Linked DNA regions of Homo sapiens. The protein of the gene in region 1 interacts with the protein of each later gene in a pairwise test. Each region holds a gene or a part of one and is shown on either strand. Other genes may lie near its edges. The genes, in order: SEPHS1, ZNF474, ZNF202 and XAF1.

Region 1 (8,026 bases):
TCAGCCTCCCGAGTAGCTGAGACTAGAGGCATGAACTACAACACTTGGCTCTGATCAGTACATTCAATTCCTGCAACTGAAATTCCTCTTTGCCTTGTAACATGACATAGTCACAGGCTCTGGGGCTTGGGACATAGACCTACTGGAGTTCGTCATTCATCTGCCTGCCCTAGGGGGTCCGTACCATTTCTCAGAGCAGCCTCAACAGGGCAGAGTCCCAGGTGCCCACGGTTGGTAGGCCACTCTAACATTCCTTCCGGCTTTCTCCTTTCTGTTTCCTCCTGTCTGCTTCATGACTTATGTTTCCTAGGATCACCTCCCAAATTAACTAACTCCCTTCTCCCTAATCCTTGTCTCCAGGTCTACTTTGGGGGAGCCCAAACTAAGACAGTGACCTTGGATAAATTACTTAATTAGTCGGAACCCTGGTTCCCATCCCCATGAAAGGAAAACCTACCGCAGGGGACTGTGGGGAGAATTCTAAAAGCAGTGCTTTAAAACACTGTGCAGTGGGGTATGTAGTGAATCCTCAACAAAGGTTAGCTATTGTTGGAGGGGTGGAAGTCAGGGTACAGGCAGGGACCAGCCTGGGACCGGCAGAGGGCAGTCCTGTCTCTGAGACACTGACCCTGGAGGTCAGAGGAGTCTAGTGGGGCCAGGGAAGGGTGGGGGAATTACAGGGTTTCCCCTGAGGACATGAATTCTTTTCTGTAAGGTGCATCTGCTCTTGAAGGCAGCAAAGTGTGAACCAGCCCTTGGGGAGAATAATGAACATCAGGAATAACATACTCAATGATTTCTGAGGTGTCAGAAAAGCCCGGCTGGCACTGGGGGCTGACATGCCCATCATGGCAGGATCTCTAAGTTCTGAGTTTCCTCCAGCCCAGTGGAAGGACAAAGAAGGCAGGTAGAGGGGCTTAAGTTTGGACATGTGGGGGTGAACATGGTCAATGAAATGGGTTGAGGTGAGATGAGGCTGCAGAACTACCCTCAGACGGTCCAAGCTGAACAGAATGAAACGGATCCACTTCAGGAGACTGGTGGCCCCCATGAAGTTAGAGTGTGGGTGTCCTATGTAAAGAAGGGAGAGGACTCAGGGACGGGGGAGAGGGTGTTGGTGTTTAAGATTTCCAGGGTTAGCTAAGCATGGTAGTAGTCCCAGCTACTCAGGAGGCTGAGGTGGGAGGATTGCTTGAGCCCAGAAGTTTGAGACCACCTTGGGCAACATAACGAGAGCTCATCTCTAAACGAATAAAAAATGAAAGATTTCCAGGGCCGAGAAGGTTCACAGCACGGCCAAGACAATGGGTGTCTAAAGTGGAGTTAAGGTCAAGGTCATCAGATTTGCACATCCATCATCTAGCAGGTGCTATTCCTGAGAATGGACCCTCTCCATCCCCTGGGATGACAGAGCAGGGGCCACTTTTGAATGGGCATGATTCAAACCATGCAGGGGAGTGACACTTCTGGCAGCAGATGGTGGCAGTGTTGGATGGCATGAGCCCCGAATGAGAAGGGCAGGTGACAGGAAGGTGATGTCACTGGAGCTGCTTTTCTGTTTTGGGGTGAGCAGGATGTGGGGTATAGAACAGGCAGCCTCTCGTCCCTCTGGGTTTCAGAGGAAGTGGAATTCTTAGGTCAGTGTTCTTCAAAAGCATCAGAATCACCCAGGGAGCCTGGCAAAATGGGGATTCTTCACATCCCTTCCCCACCACATACACCTCCGACCTGCTGGAGTCTTTTCCCATGGCTGCCATAACAAAGGACCGCAAGCTGGGTAGTTTAAATCCCGGAGGCTGCTAGCGGGAAGCCAAGGTGTCGGCAGGGCTACGCTCCCTCTGAAAGCTCTAGGGAAGAATTCCTCCTTGCCTCTCCCAGCTTCTGATGCTGACGGCAACCTCCGCTGTAGCTTGTAGCTGCATTGCTCCAACCTCTGTCTCGGTCTTCACATGCATGGCCATCTTCCCTGTGTCTCCTCTGTGCCGCTGTCTCCAAATCTTCCTTTTCTTTTCTTTCTTTCTTTTTCTTTTTTCTTTTTTTTGAGACATCTTGCTCTGTCACCCAGGCTGGAGTGCAGTGGCATGATCCCAGCTCACTGCAACCTCTGCCTCCTGGGTTCAAGCGATTCTTCTGCCTCAGCTTCCCGAGAAGCTGGGATTACAGGCATATGCCACCACGCCCAGCTAATTTTTGTACGTTTAGTAGAGATGGGGTTCGCCATGTTGGCCAGGCTGGTCTCAAACTCCTGGCCTCAAGTGATCTGCCCACCTTGGCCTCCCAAAGTGCTGAGATTACAGGCATGAGCCACCACGCCCAGCCCAAATATTCCTTTTTTTCTAAGAATATGAGCCATAGGATTTAGGGCATATCACAATTGAGTATGACTTCATCTTACCTTGATTAAATCTGCAAATATTTTATTTCCAAGTAAGGCCACATTCACAGGTATGGGGGGCAGTGAGGATTTCAACACACCTTTTGTGGTGGACATAATTCAACCCATTGTATCTGCTAGCTGTAATCTTTCAAGTGAGTGAAGCTGGTAAATTAGTTCTTTTTGTTTTGTTCTGTTTTGTTTGAGACAGGGTCTTGCTATGTTACTCAGGCTAGAGTGTAGTGGCACGATTACAGCTCAATGTAGCCTTGAACTACTGGGCTCAAATGATTTACCTCAGCCTCTGAGGTAGTTAGGACTATAGGCATGCGCCATCACACCTGACTACTTCTTAAATTTTCTGTAGAGACGCGGTTTCATTATGTTGCCCAGGCTGGTCTCAACCTCCTGGCCTCAAGTGATCCTCCTGTCTTGGCCTCCCAAAGCCCTGGGGTTACAGGCACCCTGAGCTACCCTGCTCAGCGGTAAACTGGTATTTTTAATAAGCCCCAACCAGACAATGCAACCCAGGAGAACCATCTCTTGGACGGAACCAGCAGAGCCTGAGAATCCAGCGGGGATGGCTCCCTAGAATGGGGTTCTGGTGAGCCCGGGAGTTGCGGGGGAGCGTAGGACTAGCTCAAAGCAGTACCCAAGGAAGAAGCTCTCATCACCGGCAAAGAAAAGGATGCATGACTCTGCCAGATGATCTGGGCCAAGGCTGTAGTGTGGCCCTGGATGAAGTAAGGCATCTGTGGCTTACGGCCTCTGCGGCAGAGAACTGCTTCCCGGTGAGCTCGTGGTGGGTGGAGGCGGGGAGGAAGAGTCGGTTCTGAGGATGGTGGCCTCCCACCGACGCAGCGGGGATCGGCCTCTGTCCCGCCCAGCCACTTGATTTCCAAGTTCTGCAGAGCTCTGTCCAAGGTCTCTTTCACTTTTTTCCTGAGCTCTCCCTTCGGGGTTAATCTCACCTCTTACGGAGGCTTCGAACACCATTTACATGCTGATGGCACCCAGATTTGCATCTCTGAGCCCCATCCCCACACCAAATTCCGGACCTGTTTCCCTATTAACTTTGGTCTGGAATATCCGGCAGACCTGAGATTTGCAACTCTGAGCCCCACCCCCACACCATCCGGCAGACCTCAGATTTAACATTTCCAAAGCTGAACTCACCCCGAAACTTGTTTGCCTTTCAGCAGTTCTTAGATAAATTATTAGCATCGCTCCTCATTCCCTCCCCCACCCCCCACCCCCGCAAACTGGAAACCTGGGGGTCATCTTATCCTTCTTCCTCTCCTTCCTACGTGCTAAATCACACCAAATCCCTTCCCTGGGCTGCATTCCCCTTGCTTTCAGTTCAAGTACATCTCCGGGCTTGACTAGTACAATACCCTCTTAATGAGAACCGTGACCCTGTCTTCCCCTCTGGGAGAAGCCATCCTCCAGTGGCAGGCGCCTGTAATCCCAGCTACTGGGGAGGCTGAGGCAGGAGAATCACCTGAACCCAGGAGGCGGAGGTTGCAGTGAGCCGAGATCGCGCCACTGCACTCCAGCCTGGCGACAGAGTGGGACTCCGTCTCAAAATAAATAAATAAATAAATATAAAATAAAAGAATGCAGACTAACACGTTCTTTGCAAACTTACTACAGGGTATGAAGAAAGTACACAAAGACAGGAGCAGCCTGTCTTCGAGGTGGCATCACTTCTGCATCCAGCCCAGGATTAAAACCCGGAGCAACTGGCAAGCGGAAATGTTAACGAAAAGGGCATCTGCGTAGCGTGCCAACCTGCCGTGCCACGTAAAGCACGGTCCAGTGACCCAAAACATTTCTGCTCCCAAATAACATTTGGAAAATGCTGACCTACTGCCTAGAAAAGTTCGATCGGCATTCCTGCACACTGCTGTTTTAGAGAGAAGCCCTAAACGATATCTGAAAGTATTTGGTTTATTTTCATCAGCAATGCTTTAGAATCTCGAAAGCCCAGAAAAAAGTTATTTCACGACGTGAAGCTCCCCCCTCGATGTCAATTCGAACACATCCAGGGTTGCGGCTGCCATGTTCGCTCGAACATGTGCAGGACAAACAATGCAACCAGCGGGGAACCGTAAACCTTTTTCCTCGACTTCCTACCACGCACATGAAGTGTTCAAGAAACTTTGCAGGACGTCTCCACATTTCACGAGGCTCCCGTGAACTCCGGAGCCGAGCTAAACAATAGGAAGGACAGATGCTGGGAGTCCCCAAGCATCTAACGCGCCGTTTGTGTTTTCAAAAAACCTCTGCCTGGCGCCCAGGCGGCTTTTCCTGGGCTCCTAGCCTCCTGTGCAAATTGTTCCCATGGTCATTGTCTTCCAGGACGCTCCGCTGCGCACTCGGGGAGCGGGGACAGCGCCCCGCAGAGCGCCGCGCGGTCGAGCCCGGCCAGGTGGCGGAAACGTTCCCGGCCCTTGCAGCGGGGCCCGGGAAAAAGGTGGCCCGGGCGCCAAGGGCGGCTGCCAATGCAACTCGCAACTTTTGAAATCAATCCTTTTTTGCATCATGCAACGGATGCCACCGCTCCTCGGGTTTGCAACCCCCCACCCCTCCCCCGAGACCAATCATTGCCGCGCTCGGGGCTGCACGGCGCCCCCGCCCCCTTCCCGGGCCGCACGCCGCCACCCAGCAGCCAGGGCCGCCTCTTAAAGGGAGGTGGCCGGCCTTAAAGGACCCCCGCGCGCCCAGCCGGCGGGAGCGCGGCGGCCCGGCTCCCGCAGGGCCGCGCCGAGGCAGGCGAGCCCCCGCGGCGCCCAGGCGCGGGCCCGGGCCCCCGCCGCCGCCGCCGCCGCCGGGCGCGGCATTTTTATTCAGGCGACGCTTAAGGGAGCCCGGCCGCGCCCGGTGCATTGTGGGAGCGGCCCGCGGCCCGTTTTCGGGAGGAGGCGGAGGGCGCAAAGCGAGCCGGTAAGCGGCGGGCCCGGCGCGGGGGGGAGGCGCAGGCTTAAAGGGGAATCTGGGTCCGCAGGCCCGCGGCGGCCGTTGCAAATCCCCCTCCGGGCCGCCCGGGACCGCCGGGGAGCCGCGCGCCGCCGGCCCCGCCAGCCCTGCCTGGAGAGGGGCAGCGCCGGGCTTGGTGGGGCCGCTTTAAAAAAGAAGCGCCGCCCGCGCCGCCGCCGCCGCCGCGCGGGGCCGGGGAAGGAGGGAGGGAGGGCGGGGAGGAGCGGAGGGGAGGGCGGCGGCGGCCACGCAGGGGTTAATTTTTTCGCCCGCCGACATTTTTGCGCGGCGGCGGCGGCGGCCCGTGCGCGCGGCGGGAGCGGCCGGCCTGGGGTCGCGGGGTGCCTCCGGGGCCTCCCCGCCTCCCCTTTTCTCCGCGCGGGCCCTGTCGACCCGGGGCGGGTGCGTCCCGGCGTCCTCCCCGGCTCCTGGGCCGCACGCGCGGTGCCCGCCGGCTCCCGCCGCCTCCCGCCGGCCCGAACAGGGATGGCCCGGCCGGGGCCCCGAGCTGCCGCCTCCGCCCCGCCGCCGGCCCGCAGCCCGGGCCTGCTGGGCCTTCCGAGGCGGCGGCGAGGGCCTGAGCCTGAGCCTGAGCCCGAAGGTGTCCCCGGGTTCCTTGCTCCCCTCCCCGGCCGCCTCCGACGCGGGCGTCCTGGAGAGCGCGCCCCATTGTGCGGGGCCGGCGGGGAGGTAGGTCCGGGGTTGGCGGGGCAGCGCGCCGGGCCCACCCCGCTGACCGGCTCCCCGGCTCCCCACGCTCGTTGGAAGAAAAAAAAAAACCAAACCATGGAAATGTGCCCGGGAAGGAAAGGGCTAAACGTTGCTTTAAATATTCATGCCATTGTTTTAAAGGCGTAAACATGTGGCTGCGGGGTCGCCGGGCACCGTCCCTTATTAATGCAAATGGATCCCCCTGGTTCCCTAATCACTGCACATTTCCCCCAGAACCCCCTCCCCCTTCCCATGCCCTCCAAAAATGTAAGAATCTAGTACTTTTTTCATTAGGATGTGAGGCTGATTTGTGTCCTTAGTACCATTTGGAATTTTAAATCTGAGCGCCTTCCTGATACAAGGTGTTTTAAACTTTTTTCCACCCTTAAAACTCTTGAGAAGATAGTAATTTAAAAGGAAGTGATAGCCACACAATTCCCCTCCCCACCTTTTTGGGAGCCAGGAGAGGAATAGATAGGAGGTAGGAAAATAACTGGATGCCTCGTGAGTTGGATTTTTTCTTTTTCTTTTTTTTTTCCTGGTAGGGGTGAGGCTGTGTTAAATGCGAGGTGTTTTTTGAGGAAAGGACTTTGTTGTTTTTGTTGAAAACGCCTTCCAAGTCAAAGTGGTATTCAAACTTTCCCATAACTCTAAGATGGCTTCAAAATTCTCGTCTCTTGTCACTTGCGGCCAGCGCCTGCTCTTTTTGGGCAGGGAGACTTCTTGGAATCGTGTTCGAAGGCTGACTCCTGCTCAGTTGTTACGTTTCCCACCGAAATCATTGCTCATCCCAAACCGTGTTTTTGTGAAGACGGTTTGGATTACTGCCCAAACTCGGGCTTCGTGAGATTTATATGAGCGATGTGCGTCCCAAGGGATGGAAAACTCTATAAATGGGAATTATGTTCTTAATCATAAATTTTATAGGGGAAACCGACCTTAAAACTTGGGGTGTTTGTAATTCTAGTCCCAATAAAGTATCAGTCTGGAGGTTTGTAAACTCGAGGAACACATGTTGTTTTTTCCTTTAGCCCCAAAGGCTAAAAAACGTAGGAGTGCTTGTTCCAGAAACCTAACGGTGGTACACAGGGCCGAAATGCTGCTGATTTAGTATGGCTTAATTTATTGTTTCGGTTCTGCAATGAAATGTTAATGAGGAGTAGCATATTTTGTCAATGATGTGTGTACTAGTTTGTTGGGCTGGATGTTTTGCTTTCTAGGAAATAGCACTGCGTGAAAACATCAGAGAACTTTCCAGGCTTTCGCCTGAAGAACACAGACCTTACTGTGTTAAACTGCCACTGTAGTTTTTAAGTTGTGCCCTTTAGAGAGGACTCCTATTAGTTTTGGATTGCATTGTGTATTTTTTTATTTTTTATTTGAGACGGAGTCTCACTCTCGCCCAGGCTGGAGTGCAGTGGCTCGATCTCGGCTCACTGCAACCTCCGCCTCCCAGGTTCAAGCGATTCTCTTGCCTCAGCCTCCCAAGTAGCTGGGATTACAGGTGCGCACCACCACGCCCAGCTAATTTTTGTATTTTTAGTAGAGACGGGGTTTCGCCATGTTGGCCAGGCTTGTGTCCTGACTTCAGGTGATCCACCCGCGTTGGCCTCCCAAAGTGCCGAGATTGTAGGCATGAGCCACCACGCCCATCCTTGTGTTGTATATTCTTTGGGCTCAGAGGGAAAACGTGTTTTTCTAAAATAAGGATTTAGCATCGTGAAGAATTTTGTCCAATGCATTTACATTAATGCCCTTTTCTGACAAGTTTGTATCGGGCGTTTCATTCTTCTGTGTGATAAAGCAAAAGATATCAAAAGATTTTGCGGAAAAGTCACCTTAGCGAGGACCGCCGCTTTCTGAACCACAGTGCTTCCAGGTTGACACATGAAGTGCCCAGAGGTGCTGTTCTAATGCTGAGTCCTAGAAGAACCTTTGGGATTTGCTGTTCAAGGTGGCACG
Region 2 (7,000 bases), on another chromosome or scaffold:
AAATCTGAAATTTGAAATAACATTATTAGGATGAATTGTGCTAATCACCAGTATTAAAATACAGATATCTCTCAATTAGTATTAGGTTTCCATGTGAATAACAGACTCTTAAAAATGGCTAAAATAAAAATAAAAATTTACTTTTCTTATGTAAATAAAGTCCAAGAAAGGCACTCCAGGGCTTCTATGATGGTTCCAGCATTACCAGGGACCCAAGTCCATCCAGGCCTCTGCTCTGTCATATCAAGTGTTACATAAATGAAATCTGTTCTCAACTGGCTGCTAAAGCGCCAGTCATCACATCCATCTTCGAAGCATCAGTAAGAAGGAAAGGAAGAGAAGCAATTGTTCTCTTCTTCCTTTTCAAGAATTGTTCTTACAAGTTCCACACAATATTTTCACTAACTACAAAGGAGCTTGTAGATGTGCCCAGCTGAAAGTTGGGGCTCTATTAATTGAGGGAGTTGAGTGGAATGGCTATTGGTAAGGAACTAACTGTCTCTGCCGGACATTAGAAGGGACATTATCTCATCAATTATAAGCCTTGGTGTAAATGAGTCCATCAGTTCCTTTTTGAAAGCAAGATTTCATAGGTAAGACGGACTGGTGAGCATACAAGAATACTAGGCTGGAGAGTGGAGGCTGCTGAATGGGGTGGGTGAACAACATTGAAGATGAACCTCCTCTATTTTAGAATCTTGATCAGAGCCACCATCAGCCCCAACTCCATCTTTCTTGTTTATGTTTTTGTTCATTTAAAGAATTTGAATTCAATACTAATAGAGAAGGGATCATATCATGTATCAACTATATTTCTTTTGTTTCAAAGGGCTAGATTTTTTTATATACTTTAAGTTCTAGGGTAAATGTGCACAACGTGCAGTTTCGATACATAGGTATACATGTGCCATGTTGGTTTGCTCCACCCATTAAATCATCACTTACATTAGGTATTTCTCCTAATGCTATCCCTCCCCCATCCCCCCACCCCACAACAGGCCCCCATGTGTGATGTTCCCCGTGCTGTGTCCAAGTGTTCTCATTGTTCAGTTCCCACTTATGAGTGTGAACATGAGGTGTTCGGCTTTCTGTCCTTGTGACAGTCTGCTCAGAATGATGGTTTCCAGCTTTATCCATGTCCCTGCAAAGGACATGAACTCATCCTCAAAGGACTAGATTATTTTTTAAAAGATATGATCACACTTTTCATTGTGTTCTGTTCCCTCTCTTTTAGAGAGACACCTTCTAATGCCAAGATGGTTTTTGGATTTCCACGGTTATTACATTCTTCTTTGTGTGTTTGTCTCTCCCTTCCCATGAACCCTGAAGAGAATGGAAAAATGGCATCATGTTGATAAAAGGTGATGCCTTCCAGGACATTCTGTAAATGTCCTATGTGCAGATATGGTCAAAACGAATAATTCAGGCCAACTGAGTGAACATTTCTCCAGAGATGCTTGAGGTAAAACTGTCTGGCTTTGCAAAGTGGTTCTCTTTATAAACTAGCAACATTGCTTTATGACGTTTTGGGTGACAGGCCAATTTCTTATGTGATTTAAGTATATGCATTTAGTATTTTCCAGCACTTTTGCTTTTAGAGCTAACTTATAAAGGGAGAGCAACCAACACTGCTGTGCCATGGCATGTTGCCTTTGCACAGTCACTGGCAGAAACATTACGCATTTCTCCATAAGACACCTCCGTTCCCAAAAATTTCACTGGCTTCCAGCTACCTCATCTTTCATATTTTGATACCTTTAGTCACAATAAGGGAAAAATTTCAGGAGAACATTGGAGAAGGAAAGGGATGGTAGAAAAAGAAAAGTTGAAGATTCAAATGGACGTTTTGTGATGTTTCATCGTGTTTGCTGCAGAGAAAATATTTGCAGTGCACAAATGTTTGTGTGCGGTAAGATCTATCCCTAATCAAATGGTGACATGGCTTCAAACTGAGCACTACCTGGCCTCTTGGGGCAGCCTTCACTTTTACCCTGTGCCCATGATCAAGACAGACAAAACACATCATTCATCGTTGGTCTGCCCCATTCCCCCAACTGGTCCCTACCTCTGCTGGTTATGTAGATTTTTCTGAAGATATTGGTGAAATTAAGAAAAGAATCTGTACTGCACATCACTCAGGAAAAACTACATCTAGAAAACAACTGTATATGGCAAAAGTGATTCTTTTTTTTCTTTTTTTTTTCTTTTGAGATGGAGTTTCACTCTTGTCAGCTAGGCTGGAGTGCAATGGCGCGATCTTGGCTCTCTGCAAACTCTGCCTCCCGGATTCAAGCGATTCTCCTGTCTCAGCCTCCTGAGTAGCTGGGATTACAGCCACCATACCCAACTAATTTTTGTATTTCTAGTAGAGACGGGGATTCACCATGCTGGCCAGGCTGGTCTCAAACTCCAGACCTCAGGTGATCCGCCCACCTCGGCCTCCCAAAGTGCTGGGATTACAGGCATGAACCACCGCGCCCGGCCTGGAAAAAGTGATTCTTAATGCAGAAACAGAAAACCAAATACCACACGTTCTCACTTATAAGTGGGAGCTAAACGTCAAGTACACGTGGGCATAAAGATGAGAACAACAGATAGTGAATGCAAGCGGAGGAAGGGCTGAAAAACTACCTATTAGGTACTATGCTTACTACCTGGGAGACAGATTCATGTGTACTCCAAACCTCAGCATTACACAATATGCCCATATACCAAACCTGCACATGTACCCCGAACCTATAATAAAAGTTGAAGAAAAAAAGTCCCCTGTCACTTAACATTGAAAACATTGTGTTCCATAGCCCCAGTCTCTCTCTTCTGCTTTGTCCCTCTCAGAGGCTTCTCCTCTGTGCCTTGTCTGCACTCCTCCTTCTTGCCTCTTCTTTCTTCTAAAAGGAAGCATAACAGCTGGTGAGAGCTTAGTTACCTTCCCCTGAGGCATATGGATAATACATTAAAACAGGGATAAAAACTAAAGGGAAGAAGCTCTGCTGGAGGAATTTAGGCAGAATGAATAATGGAAAGAGCCACGTATTGGAGCCAAAGAGAGCTGGAATTGATTCACAGTTCTGTCATTTAGAAACTGACAGTCTTGGGCAAATTACTTGTCTTTTCTGAGTCAGTTTCTTTACTTATAAAGTTGAAATAATAATACCTGCTTCATAATCATTTGAGAATTAACTAAAATTATGTTTACAAAAAATCTGTGCCCTATCTGGCATATAATTGGCATTCAGTAAATATTACCTCTCTTGCCTTATCAAAAGGGAGATGGAGGGGTTGCTGGGGAAAGTCATGGGGATTTCTCAGTATTCTAATCTGCTGGAAACAGAATTGACTCTGTGTGTGTGTGTGTGTGTGTGTGTGTGCGCGCGTGAGAGAGAGAGAGAGAGAGAGGGAGGGAGAAAGAGACAGAGAGAGAGAAAGAGAGGCAGAGACAATTTAGGGGAAGGAGGCTTATTTGATTGCATTGATTTTTCTAATCTGTCTTCTTAAGTCATATTAGTGTCTGCAATTTCCTAGTATCAAGGAAAATGATAAACTAAAATTCCTCGGTGAACAGAGCCAATAAAGCAGAATGGTTTGTGGAAATAACCCACGGGCTGGATTTAAAACCTAATGAAATAATTTTACCCTATTCCTATGTTCCATAGATCTACTTTCTCTTTTAGATGGTACTGATCGAGTGATAAATTTCTCTGTTTTATTTTCTATGCTGGCCACTCTGGGGCCAACACATACTTTTCCCACATCTGTTAACATTACTGTCTTAGAATCTGTCAAAATGAAGAATAACTTCTTTCTCTGTGCCAGACCTGATTTGATACTCTTAAAGGCAAGGATTCAGACCTTTGTTGGCACCAAAGTACAGGAGCTGGGCACAGATATCACAGCTCTTCTTGTTCTTTATCAAATCCAGTGCCCAGGGTTTCCATATTACCAGGACTGCTGGCCTTGCACTGTCCAAACTGAAGTGTTTGCCGTGATGTAGAGGATCCAGCTTCATACCAGGGGCTGCTCTTCTGTGGTTAAGAATGGATGCTTTAGAGTTTATCACCCTGATAAATGAAACGATAAAGGAAATGAAAAAGGTCCTGAGGCTTCTGAAATAATCTTTTTGGGGAGCCAGATTATAAACCCACGGTAAAATTTACTCATAACTTTTCCCAATATACAAATTTAAGATTCTTCCCATAAATGGATATCTAAGCTGCCACTTCTTCTGGTGGGGATCCTTGGGGAATCCAGGGCCTTTGTTTTATATTTAAAAATATTTGGAAGTCATACATATATAAAACAAGAAAGTAGGTATGATACCTTTTTAATAAAAAAAGAGCCTCAAGCAGCATCTGTGTATCATCTTTCCATGAAAGATCTGCAGATATCCCACCAGGATGGGTGCCGGCCTAGGCTGTACTCTTTGCTGGAGAATTATAGCTCCACTTTATTAATACCCTATTCCCATAATAAACAAAAGTGAATACATGATGTGTCACAAGAAGTTTATGTCCCTCTGAGGGCTATCCTGATAATCCTCATAAGATTCATTCTTGAATTACTTCTTCTGCAAGAGTTCTTAATTTCAGGTCCATGGACACTCAAGAAGTCTGTGACACAACTTTACCTCAATTAAAATGTATATCACAACTAGAAACAGTTGACAAATTATTTCAGTAAAACTGATTTCACCTGTGATAGCAACAATTTTTATTTTTACTTATAAAAATACTATTCTGAGAAGTGCATAGGCTTCACAGAATTGTCAAAGGAATCCATGTCACTAACAAGTTAAGGATCTCTGACGTAGTGGAAGTTTCTGTGGGGCCCAGGGGGTCTTTTCGTATGACCTGCTGATTTCATTAATCTAATATTCACAGTTTGCAGTTTTCTCTTCTATGGTCTCACCACCCTGGTCTCAGCCTCTATTGCTTTGCGTCTTCTGTATCTATGATGTGCTGTAATTGTCAAGTTAACTTTTTGGGCAGAACACGATTTTCAATACAGTGATAGTGCAATTGATGATGGAAGATTTCCTCAGGTTTATGTCAGTTTATTGACCAAATCCCATATGCTGGTTACTGTGCTAGTCAAAAAGTATACAAGGTCAATATTTAAAACAAGCAAAAAAAAAGCACACACACACACACAAAACAACCTAAATGTGTGTGTGTGTGTGTGTGTGTGTGTGTGTGTTTACATAATAACTTCTTATGTCTCCCACCCGCCTCCACAGATCTTGGAGACATCTCAGCTTTAATGAGGACTTTCCAACATTCCAGACTGCCGTCCTGCAATGAAGCTCTGAGTCACGGTCTGTGAGGCTAAGGTACTGGCAACGGTGTGAACCCCAGGACAACTAACCTCACTAACCTTCACTCTAAGCAGAAGCCCAAAGTGAGTCTGGCCTGAAATCAGAGCAAGCACTACAGAAAGACATCTTTGTTAATGGAAAGAGGAAAGAAGAAAAGAATTTCCAATAAGTTACAACAAACTTTTCACCATTCTAAAGAACCCACTTTCCTTATCAACCAAGCTGGGCTTCTCTCTAGTGACTCCTATTCTAGCCTTTCCCCAGAAACAGAGAGTGTTAATCCTGGTGAAAATATAAAGACAGACACTCAGAAAAAGAGACCTGGGACTGTGATACTATCAAAACTGTCAAGTAGAAGAATTATATCGGAAAGCCAGCTTAGCCCCCCTGTGATCCCGGCCCGCAGGCCTGGATTCCGGGTATGCTATATCTGTGGCCGAGAATTTGGGTCCCAGTCAATTGCCATTCATGAACCCCAGTGCTTGCAGAAGTGGCATATTGAAAACAGCAAGTTGCCCAAGCATTTGAGGAGGCCAGAACCCTCCAAACCACAGTCTCTCAGCAGCAGTGGGTCCTACAGTCTTCAGGCAACTAACGAGGCTGCATTTCAGAGTGCCCAGGCTCAGCTGCTGCCCTGTGAATCCTGTGGCCGCACATTCTTGCCAGATCATCTTCTTGTTCATCACAGAAGCTGCAAGCCAAAGGGTGAGGGTCCCAGAGCACCACACTCAAACAGTTCTGATCATCTTACTGGCCTCAAGAAAGCTTGTAGTGGAACCCCAGCCCGACCAAGGACTGTTATCTGCTACATATGTGGTAAGGAATTTGGCACCCTGTCCCTTCCTATTCATGAGCCCAAATGCCTGGAAAAGTGGAAAATGGAAAATGACCGGCTCCCTGTGGAGCTCCACCAGCCACTCCCACAGAAGCCTCAGCCCCTTCCGAATGCACAGTCCAGCCAAGCGGGACCAAATCAAGCTCAGCTTGTGTTCTGCCCACATTGTAGCCGAATCTTTACCTCAGACCGCCTCCTGGTACACCAGAGAAGTTGTAAAACTCATCCTTATGGGCCAAAATATCAGAATTTGAATTTAGGGAGTAAAGGAGGCCTAAAAGAGTACACTAATTCCAAGCAGCAAAGGAACAGGGCAGCACCCAGTGTAACTGATAAGGTAATTCATGCCACACAAGACGCATTAGGTGAACCTGGTGGTGCCCTCTGCCTGTAGGGGAACAAGAGAAAACTATCCCCAGAATCAGCCACCTCAGCCCCTAGTATTTTTTCTATCAATGCCTTGTATCAGCCTCAAAGCAGCCTGTTCAAGTTAACTCCCTGTTGAACTCCAGGGCCTATACCTCTCTTGGCTGAATAGATATAAGAACATCCTTGCCTGATGGGTTCATATTCCTCTTCAATTCTGCTGTCTAAAAGAAGAAGAGATGGACTTCTTTCTTCCCTGATCCCTGATACAAATAATCCCTGGGAGAGACAGTAATTTGAAAATGAGTCATTAATGCTGTGTCTACATTACAGAGATATAATTCCCATTCCAACAGCCAATATTTATTGTCGGTTTATTTTAGTCATCTACCTTAGGAATTCATTTTTGGCAATGCTGGGTTATGCTGAGTTTATCTTACTAAAATAGAATCTGTGTCAAAAACCCCCAATGACTTTAGCAACAATTA
Region 3 (8,183 bases), on another chromosome or scaffold:
TTTTTTACTCACCTCAGTAAAAGGAAAACAAAATCTTGGGACCCCAAACTCACTATGCCAAAGGGAAAAGCTATGCTTGGGAGCTAAATCACGCAAAAACTGCCTTCCTTTTTTTTTTGTTTCTAAACACATACTTTTTGTTTCTAAACACATGTGTTTCTGAAATTCCTTTTGTTTCTAGGCATATTTACTTTACTTCACATTTACTTTACCTCATAGAAAATGCAGATCTATGCATAATTGACTTTGTCCCCACTACTTTCTTTTCAGATGTAAAATGTGGATTGCTGAGCACTGGTCAGAGCTTCACAAGAATGGGACTTCTTGCTAGGTGCCTACCCTCCCCTTTTTCTTCTTTCCTCCTTCCTCTCCTGCCTGCTCTTTCTGCTTTAAATATTGAAGTCCTCTTTGGAAAAAGCACAGGCCACAGATCCTACTGCAACTTGTGTCTACTTTTCCACGGTGCATCCTCAACCTTGGCAAAATAAACCTCTAAATCAATTGAGGTCTGTCTCAGACACTTTTTGGTTTATACCCCATCTCCCAACCTCACCCCCAGGCTCATCCTGCCCAGGCATTCCACAGACTCAGTTCAAATGTCACTATTCAAGAAAGCTTTCCCTAACTACCTCTCTAACAGCACCACCACCAGGATTAGGACCTCCAGTAACAAGTTCTTGTAGCACTCTGTATTTCTCTGGAGAACTTACAATAATTATAATTAATTTAATTAATCATAATTAAATAACCACAGTTAGTGAATTGCGTAAGTTATTTAAACTGTTTTCTTCTTCCCCAACTCCTTCATATCATACACACACACACCAGTTGAAAGTTAGATCGAGAACAGATATTACGTCTTTCTTATTCTCCATTCTGTTCCATATACCTACCACAGTGTCTTGTAAGAGCAGTCACTCAAAAAATCATTGACAAATGAAGGACCAGCTAACTGCGCTGACAGAATTCTGATCACATCACATATGGAATATATCTTTTGTATGTAAATATATCCTCTATTATGTAAATATCTCATACTCCATGTTTTCCAAGTAGAAATTGATTACCACTGATATTAGATTAGAATCCCCAATTTATATCATTCACAAAAATAAATTCCAAATCTAACCATAAAAAGGAAAAGCAAAAAGTAGTAGAAGAACATACAGGAGAAGCCTTTATGACTTTGGTGCAGAAAAGATATTCTTAAATAAAACACCTAATTTGAAGCGGGGGAAAGAGTGTATCAGATTTGAAACTTTAATACTACAAAGTTAGACAATAATCTAGAAAGTTAAGGAAAACATTAATTTAATATTAATATTTAAAAATATTCAATGAGATTTATAGAGAAAAACATCTTATACACAGCAGGCTTTCATGAACTTAGTCAAGACACATAAAATTAATATATCTCTTGCAATATATACGTAAAATCATTAGGATCTAGGATACATAAAGAACATCTAACAACCAATTTAAAAAAACAAAAAGTCCAATATAAAAATAAAACTCACAGGAAAACTACAAATTACCAACAAATGTATGAAAGAAAGTTCAGTCTCACCATTAACGATGGGAAGGCAAAGTAAAACAATTAGATATTATTTTTGCCCATTAAACTGGCTGAGATTTACAATTCCGGCAACATGAGGTAAGGGCATGGATACAGGGAAAAAATCTTGTATACTGTTGTTAAGGGTGTAAACAGGTGCATTCATTTGGGAGGAAAACTTGGCAGTATTCATTAAAAGTGTGCAACCTTTGACCCAGCAATACTCTTTCTCAGTATCCGTCTCAGAGTACCATTGCATGTACGCACAAAGAGGGTGATCATTATAGCATTGTTTGTAATCCCAACAATTATAAAAACTTATGTTTTCAACAGGCAAATTGCTATTCAGACTATGGAATGTTATGCAGAAAGCAGAAGGAATAAGGGAGATTTTTATTTACCGCTATCAACAGATCTCCAAGGCCCACTGCTAAGAGAAAACAAATGGAAGAATTCAACATGAACACACAGGTATACACACAAGTACACAGAAAATAATACTATGTACTTTCTGTGGATACATATGTACACAGCACATGAAAATAAAAATATCTGGAAGATAAATACATTAGGGTCATAAGAACAGCTAACTTCTGGAGAGAGAGGAGGAAGCCAGGGTTGGTAAAAATGTCATTAGCGGCCAGGCATGGTGGCTCATGCCTGTAATCCCAGCACTTGTGGGAGGCTGAGGCTGGTGGATCGGGAGGTCAAGAGATTGAGACCATCCTAGCCAACATGGTGAAACCCCATCTCTACTAAAAATACAAAAATTAGCTGGGCATGGTGGTGCATGCCTGTAGTCTCAGCTACTCGGGAGGCTGAGGCAGGAGAATCGCTTTAACCCGGGAGGTCGAGGTTGCAGTGAGCCGGGATGGTGCCACTGCACTCCAGCCTGGTGGCAGAGTGAGACTCCGTCCCAAAAAAAAAAAAAAAGTCATTAGCTTTATCCATTGACAAAATCTCTTTTCTTCGCCAAACTTGTCAGGCTTCTGAAACTTCTCCTAGGGCTATCGGCGTACTTCCTTGTAAAATCTACTGTTAGCAAAGAACTCTAAGTCCTTTGGCAGGAACGCCCCCATCCTTGATATCTGACCATCCTTAATACCTGGTCAGTGTCCTCATCCTCCATCACGCCCCAGGTGATGTCTGATCAACCTGGCCTGTCTTCAGCAAGAATCCTATTAGGTTGACTTAGCCAGAATCCGCCTTAAGCCTGATGTTTCCCCTTAGTAATTTTCAATCCATCGACGTCCCAAACTCCAAAAAAAGTTCCTTGACTATAAATTCCCACTTGCCCATTCTGTATTCAGAGTTCAGCCCAATCTCTCATCCCTACAGCAAGACTTCATTGCAGTGGTTTCTTTACCTTTCCTGGTCCTGAATAAGGTCTCCCTTACCATGCTCTAACAAGTATCACTGAATAATTTTTCCTTTAACACTGTAATGCATTAAATGTTTAGAAGAAGATGTTTATGTATTATTTATGCACTTAATACCAATATTTTAAAATATTCAATGAGATTTACAGAGAAAAATATTTGGTACACAGTAGGCTTTCATGAAATGTATATTTCTCTTTGTATTGGGTAATTTTATGTGTCAACTTGACTAGCTAAGGGATGCCCAGACAACAGAAAACATTATTAGTCGGTGTGTCTGTGAGGGTGTTTCTGGCCAATATGGTGAAACCCCCTCTCTACTAAAAATACACACACACAAAAAAAAAATAGCTGGGCATGGTGGCACATGCCTGTAATCCCAGCTATTCGGGAGGCTGAGGCAGGAGAATTGCTTGAACCCAGGAGGCAGACATTGCAGTAAGCCGAGATCGCTGGGCGACAGAGCAAGACTCTGTCCAAAAAAAAAAAAAAAAAAAAAAAAGAGAGAGAGATTAGCATTTGAATCAGTAGACTGAGTAAAGAAAATCACTCTCACCACTATGCGTAGGCACCATCCAATCCATTGAGGGCCCAAATAGTATAAAAAGGCAGAGGAAAAGTAAATTCACCTCTCTCTTCTTGAGCTGGGACATCATCTCCTCCTGCTCTCTGGCCTTCAGACACCAGCACCTCAATCCCTTTCCAGTTCTCAGGCCTTCAGCTTTAGACTGAATTATACCACCAACCTCCTTATTTCTCCAGCTTGCAGTAAGCAGATGGTGGGACTTCTCAACGTCCATAATTATGTAAGCCAACTCCTTATAATAAATCTCCTTTTATATGTTTATACATACCCCGTGTGAAAGGAAAGTGATTTGGGGCCCCCAAAATCACTAAAGGGAAAATTCATGCTGGGAACTGCTTAGGGCAAACCTGCCTCCCCTTCTATTCAAAGTCACCTCTCTGCTCACTGAGATAAATGCATATCTGATTGCCTCCTTCCGGAGAGGCTAATCAGCAACTCAATGCAACCATTTGTGTCTTATCTACCTATGACCTGGAAGCCCCCTCCCCGCTTTGAGTTGTCCTGCCTTCTGGGTTCACACCTATTAGTTCTGTTTCGCTAATACACTGCCACTCCACCAAAAGTAACTAATCCTTTGGTTCAAACCCAGTAAACAGATCCCAGCAATGTGTCCCATGAAAAGGAAGTGGCACATGGCACGTGGAGAGTGGTGACTTACAGGGTAAAAGGGACAGAGAGCAAAGGAAAATGTCAAGTATGGGCAGAAAGGTCACCGAACGGACAAAAATGAACAAATGAGATCAGGGAAGACAGCCTGAAAGTAAAGAAATACGAAGCAACACTCAAAGGAAAAGAAAGAACAGTGATACCATAACTATTTTCTTTCTGAGCTTCTGATGTTCCATTCAGTTCATGTGCAATGTATCATTTAGTCCTCAGAGTAACGGTATTATTATGCCCGTTTTATATGATGCACAATAGGGTTCAAAGATGGAGAGATTCGGCCGAGGCCCTGCTGCTGATGGTGACTGCAAGAGCCAGTATTCAAACCTAACGCTGCCCTTTTCTACCATGTTGCAGCGGACAATGCAAAGAAAAAAAAATCAAGAAAAACACGTAGAGGTATCCAAATGAAAACAAACACACAAAAGATCAAAAACAGAAAAGAAAAAAGAAAAGAAAAAGAAAACCCTTGCAGAAGGTATGCCTGTAAATGAAAGGCCCAAGATGTTAATTTATTCGCTGCAGAGTGGAGTTAGGGGTCGCGGACGGCAGCTGTGGGGTCCGAGGCTTCTTCGCACTGGGTCCTTGGGGAGCACTGAGCCGCAACCCGCGGAGGGCGCATAGAGAGGATCAAACCTCCCACAGCCTAGAAAGGCTCCTACTCGGCGAGAAGGCGGGGCGAGCGATCGCTTCCGGTTCCGGGCGCAAAGGCCCCACGTGTTCCGACCCGCTAGGCCCCGCGCGGCTCGGATCCGGCGGCGCTGTTTCGGTCGGGAGTGGGTGGGAGAGAAGCCGGGGCAGGGGAGGAGCCGCCGGAGCTGTCGGAGCCGTGAGTCCTGAGTGGGCTGGGCTGGGCCGGGCCGGGCTGGACCGGGCCGGACCAGATCGGGCAGAGCCGGGCAGGGCGGGGAGGAGGGGGAGGGACCGGAGACCCCGCCCCCCAGAGTCTGGGGAAATCGCCGTGTCCTGGGGAAGGGGTGGCGGCGGTGTACTGAGGGTGCCGAGACGTTGTGGTCTCTGTGTTTCCTGGTGGCCGGAGCCAGTATCTCCGGGGACACGGATGGCGCTCCCGGCTTCCTTTCCTTTCCAGCCACCGCCCTCCGCCCCCTCCTGGGGCCTGCAGAAATGTAGTTAGTCCGTACCTCGTACCTCCTAACGCTTCCGCGCCAACTGTCCCCCCGGAACCGAGGGAGGAGTGGTCTAGGCCCCTTTATTTTCCGCAGCTTTTTCTTACCCCTCCTCTCAGATTGCTTAAGATCATCTCCGCGGGCTCCTTGCCCCGGCTAGCCCCATCTCCTTACACCACCAAGCCCCCCTCAGCCCCCCAGCACACACCCAGATACACTCACCCGTGATCTTGTCACCTGTGATGATAGTAGTCCTTGGCGTCCATTTGGCCAGAGGCTTTTCAGCTGCCACTGTGACAGACCCTGAGGTCCCCTCAAGCCAGTAGCTGCTGTCTCCACTTGCAACTTTCCTCTCCTCCCACTCCTAACAGCCAGTTTTGGCACCTCTTCTCAGCACCTGCGTTACTTTTAGCAGGAGTATACCTACTTCTTGAGTGTCTTGATTAAAAATTTGTTTTTGTGCCATGGATAGGCTGTGTTCCTTCAGAAAGGTGTCAGTCTAATTTTTGTTTTTCTGAACAATGAATGTTCTCATCTTCTAGGCGCTTTGATAACCCTGTCTGCCTTGGAATCTGTACTGACCTCCCCAGAGGGAGACTCTTAGACCCAGCCTTTCTTGAACAACCTTGGTCCTGGGGAGCAGCGCTAGATCCCAGGCTCTCAATTAGAGGCTGGGCTTAGAACTGTTGCTTTTTCTCTATCCACGCTCTGCAGGTGACACCCAGGGCAGCTACACTCAGAAGCCACAAGGAATGCTAGTGGAGCCCCTCATCCCTCCCAGCTTCTCTTCCAAGCTGCCCCGTGGGGCTTGATCCAGGAAGCTACTTCAGAAAGGTTGTGGGATAGCCTTGGGAGGAGGTTTGTTGGTGGGAAGCGTGTGAACGCGGAGCAGTCTGGGATAACTTTCTGCTGTTACTATCTAGCATAAGAGGGTGGGCAGGGTTGGAGAGAGGACAGGAATTTTTCCTCCTAGGACCAAACGCCTGGGATTCATAATCTTTCACCCTTTCTCCTCCAGCTATACCCTTTTTGTACTCTGTGTATATACTATATTGCAGTAGACAATCATTCCAAGGGTACAACAAGGTTTACCACAATGTGAGGGACTCAGCCATTGCAAATTGTACAGATGAGGTAAGTTACAGGTTTACATTTTTTTTTCCCAGTAAATTTGGCACAGATTTAAAATGTGAAACAGTTCTATACCCCTTGTTTTTGCTGTTCTCTCACCAGCAAACCCTTTAGTTTGGCCAGCAATGGCTTTCTGCATGAACTTCAGATTTACTTCATTTGCTAGGTGGTGGTTCTCAAACTTACTATAAGCACCTGAAGGGCTAGTTAAACGCATATTGCTGGGGCCCACCCCTAGAGTTTCTGGTAATAGGTCTGTGCTGGGGCTTGAGAATTTGTACTTCTAACAAGGCTCAGGTACTGATGCTGCAGATCTGGGTTCTTCACTTTGAGAACAACTACCTTTTGGCCAAATGTGATATATGTATTGCAGTAGGTTGAGGTTCAGAATACCTTTGTTTGAGTACTTCTGTGTTGGAAACTAGTAATCTGATCTTTTATAGATAATCACTTAGGTCTGAATATTTTGTTCGCAAAATTAAGAAAGCGTACTTAAAACAACTGAATGCTATATGCCAAATTTGAGGTGAAATATTGATAAGTTCTTCCCCTTGATTTTCTTAATTCTCTTGATAGGGGCTTCACGTTTTGATCAAAATATTACACCTGTATTCTGGGCTTTTGCTGTGAATTCCTAGTATTGCTAAAATTCTGCAATTTCTTAACTACCTGTTAAGTTCCTCAAGGTCAGAGCTTCTGCTTTTTTTATCTTTCTTTGCCCAGCACCTTGAATAGTGTGGGACACGTAATTGACGCTCAGTAGATATTTGTGTATTGAACTCCATCCCTTGTCCTCCTCCCCTCTTGATGTTTTTCTCTACTGGCCTTATGCTACACAGTAAAGCAGGGCATGATTATGCCACTTGATTACCCCCAAGAGATTGGAATAAATGCTTATGCCAAATTCCTACAGCTATCCCTGTGAATGGTTTATTACCCAGGAGCCCTGACACTGGCTGATTTCTGAATTTTCAGTGCTTCTGTAATATATACTAGTTGGGGGAGGAGAAATAGAAAGCTTAAACTCAATGTGCGTTTATTGAATACCTTTTCTACTAAGGGCTCCACAAAGTGGTAGGCACTGGGAATATAAAAATGAATAAGGAGACCCTTGCTCTCGAGGGCAGGGCCCACAGTGGGGAGACAGACGTTAAGCCATGCCCACGACAAGAATGACTTCTGAGATTCCTTCTCTGGATCATGATTTAGTCTTCAGTGGAAACCTGGTACTCCTCAGATTCCTCTGGTTCAACAGGCGGGGATCCCATCCCTTATCATCTCCTCAAATGCTAAAGGACCCTTGAGCAAAGCCAGGAGGAAGTCATCTAGACGTGAAACAGGGAGTATCCACACAGGCTGTGTTAATGACAAAGCTAAAAACATAGTAAATGACTTTTGAATTTACTGCTGTTATGAATTATCTATAGCAACACCTCCGGTCAGCTCTGTTATATATGTTATTGCGTTATTTCCCATTAAATGATGGTTCCTCTGACTATCTGATTGGCATTGACTATGTTTGTTGTAGAGATTGCATACATCTAGTTTAACTCTGGCTGTCAAATGAGAGCAGTTACTCTTATCAGGATGGGTGTCAGGTTTGATGTCCCCTCCTTTTCCTGCTTCAGGTTAATTTGTCATGTTCTGTTTTAAACTGAGACATATAGCTTGACCTCCTTTATTTAGGCCATTAACTGCTCTGGGGTAGTTTTCCTGAAGGTTAAAAAGCCTAGCTTCATGAT
Region 4 (7,386 bases), on another chromosome or scaffold:
TCTAGCCCAGATGCTGCAGCAGTCTCCTAAACGGTCTTCCTACTTCTCACCTTGCCCCCTACAGTCTATTCTCATCACAGAGGTCAACGTGATCCCTTAAAAATACAAGTCAGATTGTTTGGCTCCTCTGTTCAGATCTCTGTACTGATTCTTGCCCCATTTTATGCAAACTCAAAACTACAGTGGCTTTAGAGATCTATGTCATCTTTGCCTCCCTTCTTATCTCATCACCTCTTTGATCTCATGTACTACTCCTGTTCAGCTCACTGGCCTCCTGATTGTTTCTTGAGCATACCATGCCTTAGGGCCTTTTCACTGGCTACTGCCTCTGGCTGGAAGCTACCTCCTCACCTTCCCCACCCTACTCCAGGAGCTAACTCTCTCACTTCTCTCAAGTCTTTGCCCAGATGGCACCTTCTCAAGGAGATGTACCACAACAACCTATTTAAAATTGCAACTCCCTCTCCATCACATATTTACCAACCCCTTACCTTCTTCTATTATTTTTTCCATAGCATTTGCCAACTTCTAACATATTATCTAATTTACTTACTTATTATGGCCCTTGTTAATTGTCTCCCACGACCTCAGAAAAACTATAAGCCCCACTGGTCCCCTTCATGCTAACTACTCCCCAGACACAAATACTCTACTTTTGCTTTTAGCTGTTTCTTCTGGTAATCACCTTCATATGTCTAAAGCACCTTCTTATATTTTTTCCAGTTTTAGATATTACTTATTGACTCATAAGGATTTAGGAATATAGATTTCACTTTTTTATACCACCCATCCCACACACACACCTCCAAAGTTCTTCATTTCATCCTTCCAATGTATTGATTTCACTCATTCTGGTTAAATAAATATTCAGTATTACATTAGTATAACCATGTAAACATTATAAATGGTTTTCCACATGAATTGTGATTATGTGTTCTTTCTCCTACAACTTTTTGTTTTACCTGGACTTAATAATTGCTTCGGTTTTTCATTTGCTTCACTTTCTAGGTACCTATCACTAAATCATCCCTAAAATTCTCTACCAGATCTGAAAATTCCCCTGAGTACAACTACACACATCAGATAGTCTGTCCATTTCATTTTGGGAGCATGTTATGCCCCAGGCTTGATGATTAGCTGTTGGTCTGGAATTTCTTCCACTCTCTCCACGGTTGGAGTTCTGATTCCCAAATCTCAGGTCTCATCTTTCTCTTTCTTAGGTTACTCCTTGTTTGATAGAACATATCCCCAAATAGTTTCTTGAGAAAGAAAGCATGAGAGGCAAATTTTTTAGGCCTTATATGTCTGAAAATGAAAGCTTGGGTGGCTATAGAATCTATTGACCATCTTAATCTGTTTATTAAAAATCTTATTACAATTCTGATTTGGCCACTACACACTGTATACATGTATTAGAAAATCATTCTGTATTCTATAAGTATGTATCATTATTACTTGTCCACTAAAAATAAAAGAAATAAAATTGATTACAAAAACTTTCAAATAAATATGACAGTAGAAAGTTAATACAATAAACATTCATGTATTTACTCCCCAGATACAACAGTTGTTGTTCTAAACAAGGTGAATAAAAATAAATCTACTCTTAGATACATTACAGGTAAAAGGCAAAGGTTGATTTCTTTGAAATCAGCCGAAGAAGATTACAAGCAAAGGAATGGCAGTTAGGCTGAAAGCAAATATATCGACAGCAATAATAGAAGTGGGTATGCAGTGGAATAATCTTCAAAGTGCTAAGAGAAAATAGCTGTTAACACGTGGAAATCAAAAGTTTTCCAGGCTTGAACTATACTTTGTTTGTTTTCTTTTTTCTAAAGTATGTTAAAGCAAATCCAAGATATCCTGTTATTTCACCATCATTCTTTAATATCTCAAAAATACAGTCATTTTCTTAATCACAATGCCTTTATCACTCTCAATGATGTTAACAATAATTTTCCCCCATCGTTTTGGGGCCTTGCATTTACCACTCTTGTTCATTACTACTGCTGCTGCTGCTGCTGCTGCTGCTGCTTGCTTCTCCCTTGTATTCTATTGGATTGAGCAAGATTTCTTTATTCTCTTTCTTCTTTCCTACTGATTCGTCAATTTTACATTTATTTCTATCATTTCAATAGTTACCCTTAACATTTTAATATAAATACTTGACTTAATAAAGTCTAAAGTTAGTCATTATCTCTACTTTCCTTACAAATAGTATATAGATTTGAGAACATGTTAACACTGTAACTATCTTACATGAAAATGCTGCCAGAATTTTGTTTCATTTTGCTTTCATACTACCCCTCTTTACTGATTATTGTTGTTATTTATGTAACTCATGCCTGTTTAGATATACTCACATGTTTTTGTTTTTGCTTTTTTTCTTTCTTTCTTTCTTTTTTTTTTTGAGACAAAAGTCTCACTCTGTTGCCTGGGCTTGAGTGCAGTGGCACGATCTTGGCTCACTGCAGCCTTCGCCTCCTGGGTTCAAGCAGTTCTCCTGCCTCAGCCTCTCAAGTAGCTGGTACTACAGGTGTGTGCCACCACGTCTGGCTAATTTTTGTATTTTTAGTAGAGATGGGCTTTTCCATGTTGGCCAAGCTGGTCTTGAACTCCTGACCTCACATAATCTGCCCACCTCGGCCTCCCAAAGTGCTAGGATTACAGGCATGAGCTACTGTGCCCGGCTGGATATACTCACAAGTTTACCCTTCTCTTTACTCACATTCTTCCTTGGATCCTAAGCTTTCCTTCTGGGTATGATTTCTCTCTTCCTGAAATACATCTCAGTAGCTTCTTCACCAAGAACCTTGAGTAGTAAATCTTTAGTTGCCTGAAAATAAGCTTTTTGTTTTTTGCATCCATGAATGATAGTTTAGCTGGATATCAAAATCTAGATTAACAGCTATTTTCTCTTATCATTTTGAAGATTATTCCACTGCCATCCCACTTCTGTTATTGCTGTTGATGTATTTTCTTCCAGCCTAATTGCCATTCCTTTGTACGTAATCTTTATATTTGGTTGATTTCAAGATCCTCTTTGCCTTTTACCTGTAACGTGTTTAAGAGTAGTTTTATTTTTATTCATTCTGTTCAGAACAATGTACTCAAATGTGTTTGCTTTTCTCCTGCTCAGGATTTCTCTTTCCTTAATATAAAGATTTATGTCACTAATCAGGCCTGAAAATTCTCATCTATTATCTCTTTGAATTCCCAACATTCCCCAACTCTCCCACATTCTCTCAACTCTCCTTCTGGAACATAACACATGTATATTAAGCATTCTCATTCTAGCTTCATGACTCTCTTTTTTTTCATGACTCTCCTTTTTTTTCATTTCTCTCTTTTAATCGCCTTATGTCTCTTAACCTTTCATATTTTCTCTATTTCTATCTCTTATATTCTGGGTAATTTCCTGAAATTATCTCCAAGTTCATTCATTCTTTCTTGGCCAAATCTAATTTTCTGTTTTTAGCCCATCCATTTAGGTTCAATACCTGCATTTTTCATGTCTAGAAGTTCAATTTATCTTTCTTTCAAATTTGCCTATTTTTGTTCTCACTACAAAAAAAAGATAGGTATGTGAAGTGATTGATATGTTAATTAACTTGATTTAATCATCCCACAATGTATATATATATTAAAATATCACATTGTACCCCATAAATATATAAAGTTATTATTTGTTAATTACAAATTAGAAAATTTCAAATTTACCTGTTCTGTTTTTCATGAGATGTTATTCTTTTCCCAGATTTAATCATTTTTAATTAATTTATTTTACAGTCTCTATCCTATAGTTGCATTACCTGAACTTCTTGGAGGCTAATCTGACTACTTTTGTGTCTGTGACTCTTACTCAAGGTGGATTGCTTCCTTGTGTGTTTGTAATTTTGGATTGTGAGTTTCTATCTGGTGGGACTCTACCTATGAGGATCCTCTATGACCTATTTTGAGGCTGTTGTCCCTCCAGAGGAATTTTGTGATTGCTTCTGCCAGACATCTCAATGTTTATGTTAATTCTTCTGCTCAGGGATTCCCAGACCATGAGGCCAAAGTAAATCCTAATCCCACACACAGGAATGGCATGGACCTGTGATTTTGAGTTTTCAGGGGCATAAGTTTTCATCTCCACACTCAAATACCGACCCAAGAAAGAAAAGCTTCCTTGCCACTTTCCTTTTCTCATTAGCTGATACTTTTCCTCTTACCCACCATAATTTATCCTTTAAAGTTTCCAGCTTTATGCAGGATCAATAGAGTCTTACTTCCAAATCCCCACCTGTGTGGATGGGACTTTCCTGTCATCCAAGCCCCTAGTTACAAAGTTGACCCTACATCTCCCATAAGCAGTGTCAACTCCTGTGCTTAACCAGTCCATTTGTGCTGCTATAACAGGATGCCACAGACAGAGTAATAATAAAGAACACAAATTTATTTCGAACAGTTCTGAAGACTGGGAAGTTCAAGATCAAGGCACCACCATTTGGTGTCTGGTGAGGGCCTTCTTGCTGCCTCCTAGCATGGTAGAAAGCAAAAGAGTAGAAGGCTGTAGCCAAATACTTCATGAATCCTCTTTTATAAGGACCCTAATCTCATTAAAAAGGGAGGACCTTTCATGATCTAATCACCCCCGAAGGCCCCACCTCTTAATACCATCACATTGGCAGCACCTGAATTTTGGAGGAGACACATTCAAACCATAGCAACCAGTCAGACCTTCATTCCTGGAATGCAAAATTTTCTTTCTTTCCTGCAAAGCCAGCTATTAAATTGAATGTCTGTCACATTTTATACACCATATAAAAGTGTTTACAGTGGGAATTTCTTGTGTTATCTAGTCTACTGTATTTTCTGACCATTAAAGCTGAAGTCATTTTAAAATTTGATATATTATTCACAATTGCAGGGTAAATGTTGTCCAGACTCAGAGTTTAAGAAACACTTTCCTGTTGGAAATCCAGAAATTCTTCCTTCATCTCTTCCAAGTCAAGCTGCTGAAAATCAAACTTCCACGATGGAGAAAGATGTTCGTCCAAAGACAAGAAGTATAAACAGATTTCCTCTTCATTCTGAAAGTTCATCAAAGAAAGCACCAAGAAGCAAAAACAAAACCTTGGATCCACTTTTGATGTCAGAGCCCAAGCCCAGGACCAGCTCCCCTAGAGGAGATAAAGCAGCCTATGACATTCTGAGGAGATGTTCTCAGTGTGGCATCCTGCTTCCCCTGCCGATCCTAAATCAACATCAGGTACTCAGCCTCTGTTCTCTGCTTACCTTTCTGGGAACCATCCGCACAGTGTCTTAAAAAAATCCAAGACCTGAAAGATGTTCACAAATGTTGTGGCTGAAAAGGCCGTTTTCTCTGACTCCCACTTCTCTGGGTGCCCAAATGCACTATCTCGTAGCACTTACCACCTGGTTTATTTGCATCACCTCCGAGAGACTGAGTCACCTTTGACTCAAGCCAGGTCTTTGAAGGTAGAGCCAGGTCCCTCTTCTCTGTGTCTCCAGCTTCTAGGCCAGGGATTGATTTGGAGCAACTGCTTCAAAACTGTTGAGTAAATGAATGAATCAGAGGATACCCAGTCTATCTCTCTCATGGTGTAGATATGGCACTGAGGCCCAGAGATGAGATGTCTTGGTCAAGATCCTAAGCCAGTTGGTGGTGGCTTACCTCCAGCAGATCAAGGTTTGCTTCAAGAAGATCAGGGTTTGTAGGCATCTCCCTGAATATCATGATTTTTATGTCCTAGGTTATTTTCTAGTAATAATAATAACTGGCATTAGAGGTTGTTAACCATTGTGTGCCAGTTACAATACAGAGCTCTTTATAATCTTCATCATAAACAATAGGCATGCATTTTATCTCCATTTTACAGATAAGGTGAAGTAGCTTTCCAAGGAGTATACAATTAGAAGGTGGCAGGATCCAGCCTGAGTCCACATGTATATAGCTCCAAAGTTTATGCTCTTAAGCTCCAGATTAAATGCCTTACTTAAAAAATTTATTTTTTTTCAAAATACATAAGTACTAGATTTTGTTGGAGCTAGTTGATATAATATCATATAAAGAAGTATAAAAGCAAAGCTAACCCTAATTCCCCAACCCCATACCCTGAGATACCACTTTGGACAGTCTTATGGGCATCTTTTCAAAGCTCTACCTTTGCATATACAAGCCTAAACAAGCATATACTGGGTTTTACTTGTTTCTTTTTCCACACATATTATCTTACTATACTTTTTACTCTGCCACATGCCTTTTTCACTTAGTATATGATGCATGCTTCTTACAAAAGACTTAGTATGCCAAAACCTTTTTTTCTAACTTCCTTGTGCATCTATGTATGCACATAAGCATATAATTTTACAAAAATGGGTTCATTTCATATTTGCTGGGGGTGTTACTAGTGCCATTTTTCCTTGCCTCCCACAATTTGGTATATTTCCTTTCACAGTTTTCTCCATCCTTATATAACAGAGTCGCCAGATTTAGCAAATAAAAATACAGGACATTCAGTCAAATTTGAATTTCAGAGAAACAAAGAATTGTTTTTAGTGTAGGTATATTCCATGCAATGATTGTTTTGCTAAAATTAAAATTTAACCAGGACACCCTGTATTTTATTTAGCAATTTCTTATATAACCACCATACAAACATACACATTTGGAGTCCTGTTATATACATTTTTTCACTTTTTTTTTTTTGAACCAGTAAAGCTGCCATCTTTTTTTTTTTTTTTTTTTTTTTGAGACAGAGTCTCGCTCTGTCACCCAGGCTGGAATGCAGTGGTGGGATCTCGGCTCACTGCGATCTCTGCCTCCCGGGTTCAAGCGATTCTCCTGCCTCAGCCTCCTGAGTAGCTGGGAGTACAGGCACCCGCCACCACACCCAGCTAATTTTTGCATTTTAGTACAGATGGGGTTTCACCATGTTGTCCATGCTGGTCTTGAAATCCTGACCTCAGGTGATCCACCCGCTTCAGACTCCCAAAGTGCTGGAATTATAGGGCATGAGCCACCACGCCCAGCAACATTTCTTTACATCCTAATGTAAATTCAGCAATACCCAAGGAAATCCCTACAAACAAAACAGTGTGGCTTATTTTTATTAATGGCTGCCTAAGATTCCATGGTGTGAGTGTTCTCCCATCTGTCCCTCCACCCAGTGATAGCAACAGGCCCCTGTTAAACTTTGTCGCAAGCCTCCTATACTTCTGGCTCAGTGGGCTCCTGACCTTTTCTATGCCATTACACTCCAGTCTTTGGGCAGGGCTCATGCTCTGTAACAAGGGACAGCAATATCCAGAGATATTCTAGGAGCTAGCACTTCTTACTTTAACCATATCAAACTTTTTTTATATCCATTTCTTAGGAGA

What was found.
Region 2: the proteins of SEPHS1 (region 1) and ZNF474 interact in binary tests that used the Homo sapiens proteins (3 or more experiments, as listed by UniProt).
Region 3: the proteins of SEPHS1 (region 1) and ZNF202 interact in binary tests that used the Homo sapiens proteins (3 or more experiments, as listed by UniProt).
Region 4: the proteins of SEPHS1 (region 1) and XAF1 interact in binary tests that used the Homo sapiens proteins (3 or more experiments, as listed by UniProt).

What each region holds. Positions count from the first base shown.
Region 1 is NC_000010.11:13,345,294-13,353,319, reverse strand, and holds the start of SEPHS1 (selenide, water dikinase 1), read left to right. Parts: upstream 1-5,026; 5' UTR 5,027-5,320; intron 5,321-5,620; exon of another isoform or gene 5,621-6,043; intron 6,044-8,026. UniProt on the Homo sapiens protein: Synthesizes selenophosphate from selenide and ATP.
Region 2 is NC_000005.10:122,146,546-122,153,545, forward strand, and holds part of ZNF474 (zinc finger protein 474), read left to right. Parts: intron 1-2,778; exon of another isoform or gene 2,779-4,058; intron 4,059-5,233; 5' UTR 5,234-5,445; coding exon 5,446-6,540; 3' UTR 6,541-7,000.
Region 3 is NC_000011.10:123,738,378-123,746,560, reverse strand, and holds the start of ZNF202 (zinc finger protein 202), read left to right. Parts: upstream 1-4,900; 5' UTR 4,901-5,012; intron 5,013-5,100; exon of another isoform or gene 5,101-6,024; 5' UTR 6,025-6,144; exon of another isoform or gene 6,145-6,368; 5' UTR 6,369-6,444; intron 6,445-7,017; exon of another isoform or gene 7,018-7,127; intron 7,128-8,183. UniProt on the Homo sapiens protein: Transcriptional repressor that binds to elements found predominantly in genes that participate in lipid metabolism.
Region 4 is NC_000017.11:6,765,731-6,773,116, forward strand, and holds part of XAF1 (XIAP-associated factor 1), read left to right. Parts: intron 1-1,621; exon of another isoform or gene 1,622-1,723; intron 1,724-4,912; coding exon 4,913-5,254; coding exon of another isoform or gene 5,255-5,311; exon of another isoform or gene 5,312-6,619; intron 6,620-7,382; coding exon 7,383-7,386. UniProt on the Homo sapiens protein: Seems to function as a negative regulator of members of the IAP (inhibitor of apoptosis protein) family. Inhibits anti-caspase activity of BIRC4. Induces cleavage and inactivation of BIRC4 independent of caspase activation.